Linked DNA regions of Homo sapiens. The protein of the gene in region 2 interacts with the protein of the main gene of each other region in a biochemical or structural test. Each region holds a gene or a part of one and is shown on either strand. Other genes may lie near its edges.

What was found.
Region 1: of the proteins of USP15 (region 2) and TUT1, one has a biochemical effect on the other in vitro, tested with the Homo sapiens proteins (one study listed by BioGRID).
Region 3: of the proteins of USP15 (region 2) and GLUL, one has a biochemical effect on the other in vitro, tested with the Homo sapiens proteins (one study listed by BioGRID).

What each region holds. Positions count from the first base shown.
Region 1 is NC_000011.10:62,581,524-62,588,523, forward strand, and holds part of TUT1 (speckle targeted PIP5K1A-regulated poly(A) polymerase), read right to left. Parts: intron 179-7,000; coding exon 1-178. UniProt on the Homo sapiens protein: Poly(A) polymerase that creates the 3'-poly(A) tail of specific pre-mRNAs. Localizes to nuclear speckles together with PIP5K1A and mediates polyadenylation of a select set of mRNAs, such as HMOX1.
Region 2 is NC_000012.12:62,255,842-62,263,403, forward strand, and holds the start of USP15 (ubiquitin carboxyl-terminal hydrolase 15), read left to right. Parts: upstream 1-4,562; 5' UTR 4,563-4,573; coding exon 4,574-4,662; intron 4,663-7,562. Other genes in the region: TAFA2 (chemokine-like protein TAFA-2), read right to left, coding at 2,922-3,001, 3,638-3,703. UniProt on the Homo sapiens protein: Hydrolase that removes conjugated ubiquitin from target proteins and regulates various pathways such as the TGF-beta receptor signaling, NF-kappa-B and RNF41/NRDP1-PRKN pathways.
Region 3 is NC_000001.11:182,377,598-182,381,790, forward strand, and holds the end of GLUL (glutamine synthetase), read right to left. Parts: 3' UTR 501-4,193; downstream 1-500. UniProt on the Homo sapiens protein: Glutamine synthetase that catalyzes the ATP-dependent conversion of glutamate and ammonia to glutamine.

The sequences.
Region 1 (7,000 bases), on a different chromosome or scaffold from region 2:
TGGCCAGCTGGTGACTGTCGGGGGCCGCTCCTTTGGGGGATTTGGAGGCCGGGCTCTGGAACTCCTTCTGCTCCCGTGGGCGGACACGCAGGCGATGTCCTCCCAGGCTGTGCTGGGACTGTGACAAGACAGCCTCTCGAGCACCCACGTCCCCCATCTCCACAATGGCAAACACTCCCTGGTAAACAACAGGGGCAGAGATGATGATTTTGGAACCAAGAATCTAAGCACGAGATCTACAGTGGATGAGAATATTTGAAATGGAGACTATCCCATAAATTGAGAATATTTGCTTGCTGTTTTCATAATAACAGGGGACATATCTAGAAAAGCAATTTTCAGCCAGGTGCAGTGACTCATGCCTGTAATCCCAGCACTTTGGGAGGCTGAGGCAGGAGAACTGCTTGAGCCCAGGAGTTGGAGACCAACCAGGGCAACATAGTGAGATCCCATCTCTACAAACAATTTTTTTTTTTTGAGATGGAGTCTTACTCTGTCACCCAGGCTGGAGTGCAGCGGGGTGATCTCGGCTTACTGCAACCTCTGCCTCCCAGGTTCCAGCGATTCTCCTGCCTCAGTCTCCCTAGTAGCTGGGATTACAGGCACATGCCACCATGCCCAGCTAATTTTTGTATTTTCAGTAAAAATGGGGTTTCACCATGTTGGCCAGGCTGGTCTCTAATTCCTAAACTCCTAAACTCGGCCTCCTAAAGTGCTGGGATTACAGGTGTGAGCCACTGCACCTGGCCAGTACAATTTTTTTAAATTAGCCAGGTAATCCCAGCTACTGGAGAGGAAGAGATGGGAGGATTGCTTGAGCCCGGGGGCTGAGATTGCAATGAGCCGAGATCGCACCACTGCACTCCAGTCTGGGTGACACAACCACACCCTGTCTCAAAAAAAAAAAGAAAAGAAAAAGAAAATTAGCCAGGCATGGCAGCACACACCTGTAGTTCCAATTACTTGGGAGGCTATGATAAGAGCATCACTTGGGCCCAGGATGTTGAGGCTGCAGTGAGCTGTGATTGTGATTGCACCACTACACACCAGCCTGAGAGACAGCGAGACCCTGTCTCAAAAAAAAGTAGAAAAACAATTCTTTCCCTCACTCCTATTCCAAACATTTTACTCTCACCCCAGTCTGCCTCTAAAAACCTCATTTTATCTACATTATTTGTCCCCTACTCTTCCCAATGATGTGATTACACTATGACCCACCCTATAACTTTTCCTGATATAATTAGAATTTTTTTAAACATTTATTAAGGATCCATGTAACAGAATGAGTCCACTTTAAAAATCTTTTAAAAAATCAATTCATGCAGCTGGGTGCAGTGGCTCACGCCTGTAATCCCAGCACTTTAGGAGGCCGAGGTGGGTGGATCACGAGGTCAGGAGATAGAGACCATCCTGGCTAACATGGTGAAACCCCGTCTCTACTAAAAATACAAAAAATTAGCCAGGCGTGGTGGTGGGCGCCTGTAGTCCCAGCTACTAGGGAGGCTAAGGCAGGAGAATGGCATGAACCCAGGAGGCGGAGCTTGCAGTGAGCTGAGATGGCGCCACTGCACTCCAGCCTGGGCGACAGTGGGAGACTCTGTCTCCAAAAAAAAAAAAAAAAAAAAATCAATTCATGTAATAAACACTGTGCGAGGCATAAATACAAACTCATAAACCCTGTCTTCAAGAACTCACTATCTAGGAATAACAGCAATATAACAACTATATTGTTGTAAGTTGGTGAGTTCAATGATATTCACTGGCCATATTTTTTTAAAGGTAAAATATTAGCAAGAAGAGGAAAAACGCCGGGCGCAGTAGCTCACGCCTAATCTCAACACTTTGGGAGGCCTAGGCGGGTGGATCACTTGAGGTCAGGAGTTCAAAACCAGCCTGACCAACATGGCAAAACCCCATCTCCACTAAAAATACAAAATTAGCCAGATATGGTGGTGCATGCCTGTAATCCCAGCTACTCAGGAGGCAATTGCTTGAACCCGGGAGGCGGAGGTTACTGTGAGCCGAGATTGTGCATTGTACTCCAGTCTGTCCAGTCTGGACAACAAGAGCGAATCTCCGTCTCAAAAAGAAAAAAAAAGAAGAGGAAAAACAGGACTGCTTTAGGCAAAAAAGTCCATATTCTTTTATATCCTCCAATGGTAAAGCTGGACCCTCATCTTGTTTATAAAAAGGTTCCTGCTAGAGTAAGGTAGCACCAAGACAGAGTGGTGCTAGCATAAAGATAGACATTCAGATGAAGGGAATGGAATTGAGACCCTGAAAGAAATTCACACATCTTTGGTCAACTGATTTTGAACAACGGTGTCAAGAAGATTCAATGGGGAAAGAACAGTCTTGTCAACAAATTGTGCTGGGACAACTGGATAGCCACATGCAAAACAATGATGTTGAACCTTTACCTCACACCATACATAACAATTAACTCAACCAGGAGGATGGCTTCACCAGTACACAGGCCTAAATCACAAATGGGAAGTAACCAAGAAAGGATAAGGCGTTTCTTTTTGGAGTGGTGAAAACATTCTGGAATCAGTCATGAGGGTTGAAGAACCCTGTGAATATACTAACACTCACTGAATTGTATTTTTTTTTTTTTTTTTTTGAGACAGAGTGTCTCTGTCACTCAGACTTGAGTACAGTGGCACACTCTCGGCTCATTATTACCTCTGCCTCCCGGGGTTCAAGCAATTATCCTACCTCAGCCTCCCTAGTAGCTGGAATCAAAGACACGCACCACTACACCTGGCTAATTTTTGTATTTTTAATAGAGATGTGGTTTCACCACATTAGCCAGGCTGGTCTCAAACTCCTGATCTCAAGTGATCCTCCCACCTCGGCCTCCCAGAGGGCTGGGATTACAGGTATCAGCCACCACACCCACCCCTAAATTGTATACTTTTTTTTTTTTTTTTTTTGAGATGGAGTTTCGTTCTGTCACCCAGGCTGGAGTGCAGTGGCACGATCTTGGCTCACAGCAACCTCTGCCTCCCAGGTTCAAGTGATTCTCCTGCTTTCTGCCTCCCGAGTAGCTAGGATTATAGGTGCCCACCACCACACCCAGGTAATTTTTTGTATTTTTAGTAGAGATGGGGTTTCACCATGTTGGCCAGGCTGGTCTCCAACTCCTAACCTTAGGTGATCCACCTGCCTCGGCCTCCCAAAGTGCTGGGATTACAGGCCATGAGCCACCATGCCCAGCCAATTGTATACTTTTTGTTTGTTTATTTTTTTACCCAATAGTAAATAACCAACCAATGAATTGTATACTATTTATTTTATTTTACTTTTTTTTTTTGAGAAGGAGTCTCGCTCTGTTGCCCAGGCTGGAGTGCAGTGGCACGATCTCGGCTCACTCCAACCTCCGCCTCTCGGGTTCAAGCAATTCTCCTGCCTCAGTCTCCTGAATAGCTGGGATTACAGGAATCTGCCACTACGCCCAGCTAATTTTTTTGTATTTTTAGTAGAGACGGTTTCACCATGTTGGCCAGGCTGGTCTCAAACTCCTGACCTCAGGTGATCTAACCACCTCAGCCTCCCAAAGTGCTGGGATTACAGGTGTGAGCCACCTGGCCCGGCCACACCCTTCTTTTTTTAAAGACAGGATTTTGCTCTGTCACCAAGACTGGAGTGCAGTGATGTGATTATAGCTCACTGTAGCTTTGAATTCCTGGGCTCAAGCGAACCTCCCGCCTCAGCCTCCTCAGTAGCTGGGATGATAGGGGCACATCACCATGCGCAGACTTACTTCTACCCCTATGCCAAACACAGCAAAGAACTGAAGTGAGGCCAAGGACAAAGGTAGCTACTTGGACCTGCCCAGGCCAGTCTTCTGACTCTAATAAACCACAGTTTACCAGACTGCAGTACACCACCAAGTTTGTAACCAAAGCCCCAGATGGAAATTAAGAGTCTCTTTCACTGGGCCTGTCTGTGCTCCTATTTTTCTCCAAAACCTCACAGAAGGCATCAGGGAGGGCAGGACTGGCAGATTCAGAAGACTGTGTCAGCTGGGCGTGGTAGCTCATGCATGTAATCCCAGCACCCTGGGAGGCTGAGGCGGACAGATCATGTGACGCCAGGAGTTCCAGACCAGCCTGGCCAACATGGTGAAACCCGTCTCTACTAAAAATACAAAAATTAGCCGGGCATGGTGGCAGGCGCCTGTAAACCCAGCTACTCAGGAGGCAGAGGTTGCAGTGAGCCAAGATCGTGCCACTGCACTCCAGCCTGGGAGACAGAATGAGACTCCACCTCAAAAATAAATAAACAGGCCTGGCACGGTGGCGCACGCCTGTAATCCCAGCCTGTAATCCCAGCACTTTGGGAGGCCGAGGCAGGCGGATCACCTGAGGTCGGGAATTCCAGACCAGCAACATGGAGAAACCCCATCTCTACTAAAAATACAAAATTAGCCAGGCGCGGTGGCGCATGCCTGTAATCCCAGCTACTCGGGAGGCTGAGGCAGGAGAATCACTTGAACCCGGGAGCCAGAGTTTGCGGTGAGCTGAGATCGCCCCAAGCCAAGTTCGCGCCACTGCATTCCAGCCTGGGCAACAAGGGCAAAACTCCATCTCAAATAAATAAATAAATAAAAATAAGGAGCCTGTGTCCTTGCCATTTTTGTCCTCTCAACACCACCATCCATAGCTAGAGTTACTATTTGTTGAGGGCTTATTATAAACTAAGCAGTTCACACAAACGATGTCTGAGGCTCATAAGACACCTACGAAGTATGTATTATTATTTCCATTTTACAAATTAAGAAACTGAAACTCAAAGAGGTTAAGTAACTTGTAACTGCCTCACAAGCAGTGTCTTAAACTCCCAAATCTCCAACTGCCTACTGACCATTTCCCTTAAGAGAATGTTGTGGAGATTAGATGCAAGTGTACATAATGTGCTTAGCACACAATTGATGCATAGTAGTTCCTCAATAAAAATGTTAATCATTAGGCGGAGCACAGTGGCTTACGCCTGTAATCCCAGCAGTTTGCGTGGCTGAGGTGGGCAGATCACTTGAGGCCAGGAGTTCAAGACCAGCATGGCCAACATGGAGAAATCCTGTCTCTACTAAAAATACAAAAAATTAGGCCAGGCACAGTAGTTCACACCTGTAATCCCAGCACTTTGAGAGGCCGAGGTAGGCGGATCACCTGAGGTCAGAAGTTCGAGACCAGCCTGGCGAACATGGTGAAACCTGGTCTCTACTAAAAATACAAAAATTAGCCGGGTGTGGTGGCACGCGCCTGCAGTCCCAGCTACTCGGGAGGCTGAGGCGGGAGAATTGCTTGCTGGGATTACAGGCGCCTGCCACCACACCCAGCTAATTTTTGTATTTTTAGTAGAGATGGGGTTTCGCCATGTTGGCCAGGCTGGTCTCGAACTCCTGACCTTAGGTGATCCTCCCACCTCAGTCTCCCAAAGTGCTGGGATTACAGGCGTAAGCCACTGTGCCCAGTCGAGAGAAATACTTTTTCTAAAGGCCTCCTCAGTAAACTTCTACTTATATCTCAGTGGCCAGAATTCTACCACAAAAAAACTCCCTCTCAAAAAAAAAAAAAAAAAAAGGAAAAAGAAAAGGCATTTTTCTCAGAATAAAAGGAAAAAAAATAGAGGAGGGGACTCAAACTCAGCTGACACTAACCTTTTTTTATGAGATGGAGTTTCGCTCTTGTTGCCCAGGCTGGAATGCAATGGCGCGATGTCGGCTCAAGGCAGCCTCCGCCTCCCGGGTTCAAGCGATTCTCCTGCCTCAGCCTCCCGAGTAGCTGGGATTACAGGCATGTGCCACCACGCCCCGCTAATTTTGTATTTTTAGTAGAGACGGGGTTTCTCCATGTTGGTCAGGCTGATCTCGAACTCCCGACCTCACATGATCCACCCGCCCCAGCCTACCAAAGTGCTGGGATTACAGGCGTGAGCCACTGGACCTGGCCGACACTAACCTTTTATACTCTGCCCTACAAGCTGCCCCTTCTTCTTTTCTGAAGATATGGGGCAGCAGTATCGTAACTATGAAGAGCCACATACCAATAATGGCAGAGCAGGAAAACAGCAAAGCCCTGAACTGTCCAGGTCTGGACTTCTTGTTACATGAGAAAAACTAAATTCCTATTGTTTAAGCCATTTGTAGTTTGGTTGCTGAATGCAATCCCTAACAAACACAGGCTCCACCCCATTCTAAAAGATAACCTGGGCTGCAAAGGGATATTTTGGATCACCTAAGCCATGCCTACATAACAAGAGTACAGCCTCAGAACCACAGTATGACCAAGGAACACAGCACCTCAACAGTGAACTTTTTTCAAGGGACCAAAACCTACAGGGAAGCAACACAAAAAGCACAAGCTTGTTTATCTAACACTCTCCAAAGGACAGGGTGTTCTAACCAAACAACCTTAGTACCCTCAGTGTAAGTTAATAAACTGCTAACTGGTTTATCAACCAGGTTCTTGTGGAGTTGATCCAATGGTATGTTGTTCTTTAAGCACCAACTTTCACTATAATTACTTAATTGTTTACTTTCTCCTCTAGACTATAGGCTCTGTGAGAGCAGGGACCATATCTACCCCATTCACTACTCAGAATGCAGCCCTAAGCATAGTGCCTAGTACAAAGTTAGCTGTGAATAAATATTTGGCAAAGAATTCACTGAATCAATAGATGACACACACAAAAAAATCCCCCAGTGACTAACTCTGGTGAAGTGATAAAATCCAAAGGGTGGGACTGGGAGCAGTGGCTCACGCCCGTAATCCCAGCATTTGGGGAGGTTGAGGTGCACGGATCACCTGAGGTCAGGAGTTCGAGACCAGCCTGGCCAACATGGTGAAACCCTGTCTCTACTAAAAATACAAAAATTAGCTGGGCATGGGGGCACGCGCCTGTAATCTCAGTTGCTTGGGTGGCTAAGGTGTGAGAATTGCTGGAACCCAGGAGGTAGACGTCACAGTGAGCTGAGATTGTGCCACTGCACTCA
Region 2 (7,562 bases):
GTGAGACTCTGTCTCAAATAAATAAAAACAAATCAATTTAGTTCTATTAGCATGTAGTGAGAGTCCACTATAGGGCAGACTGATATCAAATTTCATGGTATAGTCAGCTTTCTAGTACACTTTATGTACTTCTTAAAAAGAGGATAGGCCAGGCACGTGGCTCATGCCTTTAATCCCAGCACTTTGGGAGGCTGAGGCGGGCAGATCGCCAGAGGTCGGGAGTTTGAGACCAGCCTGGCCAGCATGGTGAAACCCTGTCTCTACTAAAAATACAAAATTTAGCCAGGCATGTTGACAGGTGCCTGTAATCCCAGCTACTCAAGAAGCTGAGGCAGGAGAATCGCTTGAACCCGGGAGGCAGAGGTTGCAGTGAGCCCAGATCATGCCATTGCACTCCAGCCTGGGCAACAGAGTGAGACTCCATCTCCAAAAAAAAAAAGGATATAAAGTAGGAACCTAGATTAATTAATTTGTAGACCTTATGCCCATGCTAAAATTAAACTTTCTAGATCCTATAGGACAGAAAATATAATTTTGTTTGCTCTAATTTTTTTAAATTTAGACCTTTAATTGGGATAGACAGCTCAACAGTCCCACAACTCCTTATTATCCCCAACAGATTTCCTTCACCCATTTACATTAGCTGTATCTAACCCCTGCAAGTATTTGAGTTTCAGCCTCCGAAATCTAATCACTTTATTTTATAATAAGAAAACGAATGGTCACAGAGAATAAATAACTTAGCCAAGGTTACCAGCTAGCAAGTGGCACTGAGCCAGAGTCAAAATCCAAGTATAGTGGCTCTTTGTAAAAGGCAGTGTTTTCATCTTACTATATTTTCATTCTCTTTTTCAGAACCTAACATTTGTCTGAAATAAGGACCCTCCGTAATTTTTTTTAGCTTTCAAAAGTGCCTCGTGGCACTTACAATTTTTATTCATATCCCAAGTTTCAAAATATCATTAACAGATTAAGCACTTTACTACATGCTATTTTGGTGTTTGCACTACTCCCCCGCCTTTCCACTGCCTTTTAGCTGCTCTGAGAGCTGGTAAAGAGAGACGAGAATTATACAATTACATAAGATAAAAGAATGAAAGGTTTAGAGAGGTGAGTAAGAATGAGGGGGTGGTAGGGTCGTGGGCGGGAATAACTGTAGAGGAAGGACAAGGAGAAGGAAAAACTGAGACAGTGGTTCCTGAATATCAAAGACAGGAAGAGTTGAGAAATAAAGACAGCCAGTCATCAAACACTGTTCTTTTATGGGATGTGCTGATTCTGTGTGTGTGTATGTACATGTGTATATATATATACATATATATGTGTGTGTGTGTGTGTGTGTGTGTGTGTGTGTGTGTGTGATTTGCTAAGTCCACTCAAATTTTAGGCAGATTTTTCCCTTAGGCTCATGTAGCCAGTCCCACAAAAAATTATGAAATAGGCAAAACTTATCTTGAAATTCTCCTTTGTACTTTCTTCCATTAAACTGTATTACAAAATGCAGTGCTTTTTTTCTCTGGTTCACCCCAGGCTGAAAACTGGCTCTCTTTGACACTTTAGTTTTAAACCTAACTCTCTCCTGGAGTATTTACATTTGAAGTCCCATCTCTTAATTGTTGAGTAAAAGAACCTCTCTTAAAGGAATTGTTTAAATATCAGTAAGCAGAGAGGTTTGGAATTACTAGAGGGTAAAGGAATCCTTCCTAGAGAATCTCTAATTTCACAACCAACTGTGACTTTAAGAGGTCCAGCTTGTTCATATCTAGCCTAAGTACTCAGCATACTCAGCTCTCTAGGTTACGTTTTAAATTGACAAAAAAGGTACAGAGAGTCTGAGAAGGCAATAACAATCACCAAGCAAACTGGTACATTCATCAAAAGTTAACTAAGGAATGCATCAGTGAAGACATTCATTCTAAATAAGCAGATATAATCCCTGATTTATATTCAATTATTGGTGATTAAGGTGAAGTAGCTTTTCTCATCAATTTATCTACTTAATTATTCAGTAGGGATGTGGACTTTAACCAATTTATGAACAATATCTTATTTCTCTTCATAATTGAGAGAAGCACCAGTAAAATAAGCAGAATTTCCATAAACTGATCAACTGAGATCACTAAAACGTTGATTGCTGTAAACAAAATAATAAAGGTCAATAGAAAAATTGAAGTTTACCCAAACTTTCCAGATTCTGCAGCCAGACTGCCTGGTTTCAATTTAGGTTCTGCCACTTACTTGCCTCAATTCCTTATCTATAGACTTGAAATAATAATAGTACCAAAATCATGTGATTGCTGTGAGAATTAAGTTAGTATTTTAAAGTGTTTAGAACCATGCTAGGCACTCTGTAAGTGCTTGCTAAATAAAATACTATAATTTTATCTCTTTCCTGACTCTGATGGCAGTTACTTAGGTCTACAAAACGGCTCCATAAATCTGATGTATAATTCAAATTGGCATTGAATTTACACGTCTATATCCAGTTAACCTGCTGCCTTGAGCATGGTGCAAGTGAAGAAAATATTATTTTACTTCATTGTATGGTTGTAGCTGTCAACACTTCAAAAATGCATTTTCTCTTAAGGGAAAGTGGACATTAGGGTATAAATGATTTATTGCTACTTGGTTATGTTATGTTTATACAATGAAGGAGAGCACAGTTTTGCCTTCAAAGCCCCTAACACCTTTTTTCAATAGCTTTATTGAGGTATAATTCACATACTGTACAATTCACCCTGTCATCAATAAACAATACTAGTGTTTATTGAATGGCTATTACGTCCCAGGCAATAAACACAAATTGTTTCATTTAATCTTCATAAAAATCCCTTAAGGTAGGTATTATTATACTCAATTTTATGATTCAATTAAAGGGCAAGAACTTTGCAGCTAAAGGTTGAAGTGAGGTTTGAACTTACATCCATGTAGCTCCAATATATGTTTTCCATATTCTGCAGCTTCCCTTCAGAAAATTACTTTGTTCTCTTTCAGAGAGTGACTGGAAAAAGGGGGAAAATGTGACTTTTAGAGGGTAGCCGTGGTTAGAGAAACTCTTAATCTTTTAACCTGTCAGGAGAAAAGCCAGAAATAGCAGTCACTGAAAGTTGTTTTAAAACTCTCAATTCAAGGTTGGCATGATAATGCAAAATAGTATTATTACGCAGAAATAAGCAATCATAATCATAATACTGATATACACAAATCATAATGCCAATATACACTACTTTCACTTGGATTCAGCACTTCCTACTAGCATAACTACACCTACCTTTATCGCATTCTCACCAAATGAGTTAGGGTTTAAAATGGGCAAACGAGAAATGATGTGGGGATTCCGGCCCATCTTTTAGACTTTTCACATCAATATGGTATGTTAAAATCACACCCCTGGACATCATGCTCGGGAATACTTAAGTAATTTTGCCACAATTCATTTACTAAACAAATATTTAGGTAATTTTTACATGTCCATCAGTACTGTGCTAACCACCAGGTGTACAAAGGCTAAAACAAAAGATGAACCCAGTTCCAGCTCTTAAAGAGTTTACATTTTAGTTCAGGCTTTCAGAAGGAGAGGCAGTGAGTGTGCTATACTGTATAGCATGTGGGCTCTTGAACCAGCCTCTCCACTCACCTCTCCACCTGCTGTGTGACCTTGGCATTTGATTTTTAAGCGACTCGATTTTCTATTTTGTAACATAATCGTTGACTTCAAATTAAAGACATATCTAGTTTCATTTCAGGTGTACGGCACCATACGAAGATGGGGCTAAGAAAATGTTACTATCCTGTATAAACAAGAGGGTTTCTCGCACGTTTTCTTCCTTTAGTATCTGGCATTATTCAATACTGTCCATATTCTACTCCCTGTTCACCGATGAACTGGGACATGTTTTTCACTGCAGCTTAGTCGTCTGGGTGTGCCTGGGGAGGCGTCACAAAGAGCCTATAAAGGGTCCCCACCTACAACGGGAGTAAGAGCGCTGGAAGGAACCCAGGAAGGGCATGGAGACCAAGCGTTCGGTTTCGGAGTGTTTTTTGTGTGTGCCCATATTCACCGAGCTTGGGTTCTCCCACTCGTAACGAAAAGCCCAGTCACTGAGCTGCTACATTTTCTGCCATATCTTAGCCGTCCCCACGCCCCCACACCACCGCCCCACCCTACCTCACCCTCAAGCGTGAGTGAATGCGCAAATAAGGGTTTTCAAGGCGTCAGTGGGAAAGAGGGAGGGGAAGGCAACGCTGAGGACGGGAGGACAGGGCGGTGGCATCCCTCTAGCGAGAGAGAGCCAGAGCCCTCGGCGGCGAGGAAAGCTAAAACCCGGCAGTCCCGGGCCAGAGGAGGCCAAGGCAAGATGCTGGACGGGCGGGGACCGATGGGGGGCAGCAGACCATGGCCGCGCACCCAGTGCGCCCCCGGGGCCTCCTCTTGTCCCGAGGAGCACCCCCGCTCCCGGTGTCTTTTGGTTTCGACCGGCCGACTGGGAGGGGCCGTGGGACGCCATTCCCATAATGCTCTGGGGCGTGCCGCCGCCGTCGCTGCCACCTCCCCTACCGCTAGTGGAAGAAGATGGCGGAAGGCGGAGCGGCGGATCTGGACACCCAGCGGTCTGACATCGCGACGCTGCTCAAAACCTCGCTCCGGAAAGGGGACACCTGGTAAGAGAAAGGGGTTGAGATGCCCGCGGTTGCCCGAGGATAGTGGAGAAGTGGGCGGGAGCCGCGAGCTGGTTCTTTCGCTAGTGACAGGTGCGGGCAGGTCCGGCGGCGGCCGCCGGGGCAGCGGGATTTTGGCCGCTTCTGAAATGTTGGGGCAAAGGTTGGACTCTAGATGAGGGTCAGGGTTCTTGGCTTGCCAGGGCATGCTGAAAGGTATCCGGGGAGCGGCGGCGGCGGCGGTTCTGACTCGTGCGGTTCTCTTCGTCCTCCTTCCTTCCGTAGTGCCGCTCCCACCTCAGGCCTTCCCGAATGATAGGTTATAGTGGTTTGGTTTGAGTCTTATATACGCCGTTTTGACAGGTCCCGGTGCCGCGGCTTATCACGATCTCACCGGCTTTACTTCTCTGTTCATTTCCTTTCCTAGAATTGTCGGCGTCCAAGTTCCCTTTTATTCTGATTCTTGGTCTTCCGGGAGGCAGGCTGCAGGATGTTTGCGGTCTGTACTACACAGGTGGCATGTCAGGGCTCCACATAAGAGAAAGAAACCCTAGTTTCCAGTTCCTTGTCAAAGGAGGGAGAGGAGTAGGGAACCTTGGGCTTATGAGAGACCACGTGGTCTTGTGCTTTAGTGGTGGCTTGATAGAAGCCGGCAGCGTTTCTGTTAGACGTGCAGCCCTTCCCTTCTGTTTGAAAGATAATGTAGGCCTGCAAAAAGTAGATAAGTCCACTTGAGGCTTAACTAACTGCTAATATTCAAACTTGTAAAATACCAAAGGTTATACATTTAAAATACTGAAGGATGTATGTGGACATTTTCACACTTGTCGACCATATCAAGTGGCATCTACAATAACTTAAATATGTGAATATGTAACATAATTTAAAATTCCTTATTTTTTGGGAAGCATAATGTGCCTCTTCATTATAATAAAACATATTTTCACTTTCCACTGTTACCATAACAGTAGTATATAATTCATAGAGTGTTTCAGTATGGCATAGTGAAAGGAACAGTAAGATTTAGACCTGAGTTATGTCACAGTTTCACCACTCAACTTGCAGTATGGCTTTGAGGAGAGTTAATTTAAATCATTGCACCTCATTATCTTCATGCTGTAAAATGGACAGTAATTTTATTATAAGGATTTTATCTTGATTCGTTTTAATATCTTAAGAATTTCATATTTATGAGATATCAAATTTTAGTTATCCTCTTATCTCTGCTCTTTACTCCTGACAAAAGGCTGTGATATTGGGATCATTTTCAGTTAAGCTAATAGGTGGCAGACTTAGGACCTTAATTTAACCTTGATCTAAGTCTTAGTCTCTTTTTTCTTTTTTGGTAGGCTATATACTATGTTTGTATGATAGAAATCCCTAAGGATGTAAATACATACTTGTTTCATTATATCAAAAAAATAGAATCTTCAAGTGACTTAATAATAGTTATTGTTGGCCTGGCAGGGTGGTTCACGCCTGTAACCCAGCACTTTGGGAGGCCGAGGAGGGAGGATCACTTGAACTCAGGAGTTCCAGACCAGCCTGGGCACCATGGTGAAACCCCGTCTCTACAAAAATACAAAAAAATTAGCTGGGCATGGTGGCACGCCTGTGGTCCCAGCTACTCAGGAGGCTGAGGTGGGAGGATTGCCTGAGCCTAGGAAGCGGAGGTTGCAGTGAGCCGAGATCCGGCCACTGCACTCTAGCCTGGGCAACGTGAGACTCCATCTCAAAAAAAGAAAAAAAAAAGTTATTGTTTTTATTATAATGTTAGATGTTTATTACTGTGGGGAAATTGGACATTTCCTAGGACACCCATGTTTACCTTGGCTTGTGGTAATGACAAATAAGTCCCCGCTGGCTATTGTAAGTTAAAGAACATTTAAAAATTCTTAATTCACCCAACCTAGTACCACCTTATTTTAAAAAGTGAATTTCCTTAAAATAGAAATCTGTAAGTCTATAAGTTAAAATATAAGTGTTATTGTCTCTCATTAATGTCACGTTTTTGTATATAGAGTAATTGGTAGCATTGACACTACAGGATGATAGGAGCAATATGTGCATTGTGGGCGTTTAACTTTATGAAGTTTGGTATTTTCAAATAAGTATATTTTTGCTTTTTTACAAAATTAATGTAAATTGTTTTATATATGTGCGTGTGTGTGTGCGTGTATAGCTGTATAGGTACAGTGTCTCACTATATTGCCCATGCTGATCTTGAACTCCTGGCTTCAAGTGATCCACCTCAGCCTCCCAAAATGCTAGTATTACAAGTATGAACCATGACTAAATACAAGAGGCTCATAAATTTAAGTCATTTCAGTGCTTTTATTTTAAATAAAAGTAAACTGAGGGCCACATATTTAGATAAAAGCAGATTGTGCAAGTTTATCCTCACGTTAATTTTCTCTTAAAGGAAAAAAACTGCAAGAGAAAGATGGTACTGGGAGTTGCAGAAACCAGTTTGGTTTATTTGTGAGCCAGTTTATTTGCAAATTAGCAAGTGAAACCTGTCCAAAAACAAAGTAGTAGAGAGCAAAAATTTGATTCAGAATTTTAAAGAGAATAATTTGATAAGTATAAATTTGATGATGAACTTACAGGTACAGAACTGGTGGTGATATGTAATAATTTAGTTTATGTTTTTGGAACTCACTAGAAAGTTGTTTTTCCTTTTAATATCTTTTTTTAATCTTTGAATCAGGTTATTTGAAATTTGCCCTGTGGAATATTGTCGTGGCATATGTATGTAACTGTCTAGGAAAGACTGATTGGGCTGTTGAGAAAAAATGGTGGGTTTACCATAAGTTTATTCTTGAAAGTTTAATACACATGTCTGAAGTTATAGTCATATGCATCACAGTGAATAAATTTCATTTACTAGCTTTTGAGCACTT
Region 3 (4,193 bases), on a different chromosome or scaffold from region 2:
TTGAAGAGATGGATCCTCTCTTGCAAAGGAAGCTCTGGAAAAGTGCATTCTCTTACTGTACTGTCTCTCTAAATTTAGCTAATTAGATCACAGGTTCCTTCCCAGAGTCCAGGCAAGTGTTCACTTCTTCCAAAAAACGAAAAAAGGAATCCTTTTCCCTCTCCTCCCACAATGTGATACTACATTTCATTCTGTAGCCTTATTTAAACAGTTACCAAAACAGCTCACAAAATCATTTGAGAATAAACTGGGATACATAGCAATGGGCCCAGGAGTCCCCTTCCTTTTGGTGCTGCCAGTGACAACCTTTAGCTATAAAAGGAGGGTCATAAAGGAGACTTGACCATTCACTTGACCACCCCTCATTCATATGCTTTCCCCAACACACCAAACTAGTGCCTATTTGACCCCCATTTCATTTGATTATTAATTTTTTCACATCTTAAATGCTGATTCAATTTACTGTCAATAGAGGAGTAAAACAGAGTCACAGAGAAGGAGTTATTCTAAACCTTTATTGAAAGGCAAATGCAGAAAGCCTTCAACACAGAGGATAGATTTAGTGACTGAGGGCCCACTGGAGTTTAACTAATAGATCTGCTGACTACGCCGTACAGTGGAGGAAACACGCTGCAATCTCAAGACAATGCAGGTAACTCAATCTGAAATCCATCAAAAAGAGGACAACTTGCTCAGGTACAAGGCCCCTGAAAAGTAACTCATCAAATGACAATAGGAACTGTGTGGACACTCCCTCTGTAACATGCACTAGGATATCACTCTCCTATATTAGAGGAGCTCCAAGCAGTGTATCATGCTCAAATATTTATTAATTGACAGTGTCCGACAACCTCCTGTCCATAAAGCATGGCAGAGTGGGTAATTAATTGGAAAGAGTTGGCAGTAGAACTTTAAGAACAATTATACCTTCTACATCTTACCACTCCCCATTCCTAGTGACAACTTTCTCATCTCGGCGAATTCTCTTGTGTACTGTTTCTGGAACATATATTACTAAATTCCTGTCTCCTTTACAAAATGCTGTATCTTGGGCAAAAGACATATGTATTGTGCTTGTATTGTGTATCTAATGTGTACATATATGCATATTCTCACAAATATGGTATACATTTATATTATGCATGTGTATGGACATATATCTGCATATTGTAAAATGAAATAGAATTTTTTTTTTCTTGAGATGGAGTCACACTCTGTTGCCTAGGCTGGAGTGCAATGGTGCAAGCTTGGCTCACTGCAACCTCCGGCTCTTGGGCTCAAGCGATTCTCCTGCCTCAGCCTGCCACTCGGCAGGGTGGGATTACAGGTGCTCACCACCAAGCCCGGCTAATTTTTGTATTTTTAGTAGAGATGGGGTTTCACCATGGTGGCCAGGCTGGTCTCAAACTCCTGACCTTAAGTGATCTGCCCACTTTGGCCTCCTACAGTGATGGGATTACAGGCTTGAGCCACCATGCCCGGCCTGAAGTAGAATTTTTTTAAATGAACGGTCGGAGATCGAGCTAAAGGCTATAAAATGGCAGGGTTCTAATCAGCTCAGATTGTTTTCAGTAGAAATGTACGCAAAGTCTTTGGAGTTAAATGATGAACTGCCACTTATTTATTTATTTATTTGTTTATTTTTTGATATGTCTCACTCTTTTGCCCAGGCTGGAGTGAAGTGGAGTGATCTTTGCTTACTGTAACCTCTGCCTCCCTGGCTCCAGCGATCCTCCTGCCTCAGCCTCCTGAGTAGCTGGAATTATAGGCACCCACCACCACATCTTGCTAATTTTGGTATTTTTAATAGAGACAAGGTTTCACCATGTTGGCCACGCTGGTCTCGAACTCCTGAACTCAGGTGATCCACCTGCCTTGGCCTCCCAAAGTGCTAGGATTACAGGCTTGAGCCACCACACCCAGCCTAAACTGCCAGTTTACATCAGTTATAATTTTTTTTTGTTTTTTTGAGACAGGGTCTCACTTTGTTGCCCAGACTGGAGGGCAGTGGCACAACCATGGCTCACTGCAGCTTCAAGTAATCTTCCCACCTCAGCCTCCCAGGTAGCTAGGACTACAGGTGCATGCCACCACGCCCAGCTAATTTTTCGTATTTTTTGTAGAGATGGGGTTTTGTCATGTTGCCCAGGCTAGTCTCGAACTTCTGAGCTCAAGTGATCTACCTGCCTCGGCTTTTCAAAGTGCTGGGATTACAGGTATGAGCCACCATGCCCAGCCTCAGTTACAACTTTTTTTTTTTTTTTGAGATGGAGTTTCCCTCTTGTTGCCCAGGCTGGAGTACAATGTTGCAATCTCAGCTCACTGCAACCTCCGCCTTCCAGGTTCAAGCAATTCTCCTGTCTCAGTCTCCCAAGCAGCTGGGATTACAGGCATGTGCCACCACGCCCGGCTAATTTTTTGTATTTAGTAGAGACACAGCTTGTTTCACCATATTGGCCCGGCTGGTCTCAAACTCCCGATCTCAGGTGATCCACCTGCCTCGGCCTCTCAAGGTGCTGGGATTATAGGCATGAGCCACTGTGCCTGGCAGTTATAACTCTTAAAGCAACACAAGGCTCTTGGTAGCCTGATTACAATGAGAATTAATTAAGTACACTATTTTCCACAGTACACTCCCACGAAGTTTTTAGTGCTGCCATAATGTTTGTAGTAAAAAGAATCAACATTTTCAATTTGTTTTTTGGGGTTTTGTTTGTTTTGTTTTGTTTAGGCAAGGTCTTGATCTGTCACCCAGGCTGGAGTGCAGTGGTGCAATCACAATTCACTGCAGCTTCAATTTCCTGGGCTCAAGTCATCCTCCCATCTCAGCCTCCTGATAGCTGAGACTACAGGCGTGCAATTTAAAAAAAAATTATTTTGTGGAGTCTGGACCTCACTACATTGCCTAGAACGGTCTCAAACTCCTGGGCTCAAGAGATCCTCCTGCTGCAGCCTCACAAAGTGTTGGGATCACAGGCGTAAGCCACTTCACCTGGCCTTGATTCTTTTTAAGCTCAATAAAAATGGAACTTTGTCTTGCTGTCATGGCCAGAGTTAAAATACAGTCAAACAACAAAGACCTCATAGAGTTAAAGCTCACAAAACTGATACTTAAAAATAACTTATTAAATAAGTATTGCAGGCACTACAACAGGTCTCAAGATACAGTGGTGAGCAAGAAAAACAGGATCTCTTGCTTTCATGAAGTTCAACTAGAAAGTCCTGTCGAATGATGAGACATCTTTCTTTGGGGCAGCAAGTTACTTTCACTTAGTGGTAAAAGGGCCAAGAATAGTTCAGGAACTTCTCATCCACTTGTCTACCCTTCTACACAGACAGCAGCACAGATCTGGCTTTTTACATGGCCCTAGGCCGGGTGCAGTGGCTCACGCCTGTAATCCCAGCACTTTGGGAGGTGGAGGAGTTCAAGACCAGTTCAAGACCTCACTTTGGGAGATCAGGAGTTCAAGACCAGCCTGGCCAACATGGTGAAACCCCATCTGTACTAAAAATACAAAAATTAGCTGAGCATGGTGGTGCACACCTGTAGTCTCAGCTACTTGGGAGGCTGAGGCAGGAGAATCGCTTGAATCTGGGAGGCAGAAGTTGCAGTGAGCCAAGATTGCGCCACACTATACTCCAGCCTGGGTGAGAGTCAGACCCCGTCTCAAAAACAACAAAAGGCCCTAGACAACACCCATCCATGGAATTCTTTCAAATTCCCTATAGCTTGTGCTATCAGTTGTTATTTAGTACCTGGCAAGATGATATTAGGGGAACTCATATTTAAGGAGTTCATGGAGACCTCCTTTTGTAAATACTGGCCTGACTCCTTAAGGTTGAAAGCTTGGTCATTATTCTGTTTAATCTATCACTGATAAAAGTTATCACATAACCCATTGTCTGCAAATGAACTATAAAAAACACCTTAGAAATACAAGGGGATTGCACTGTGACCTGTAGGTCAAAGCTAATTCTAGGTGAGAGGGTGAAGAAACAAATATGCTGGTTGTTTTCACCTAAATTCTGATCCTATGAATTTAAAATTCCTTCTCATGCAATCATTTTGTCATGGAATTGATTACAATGAACAAAATCCAAAGTGCTCAGGTCACTGCCTCTTCAGTTTAGTGCTTACACTGTAGGATACACCATCCAAGAGGCTGTAAGGGTGGCCAAGCAAAGGGAAGACA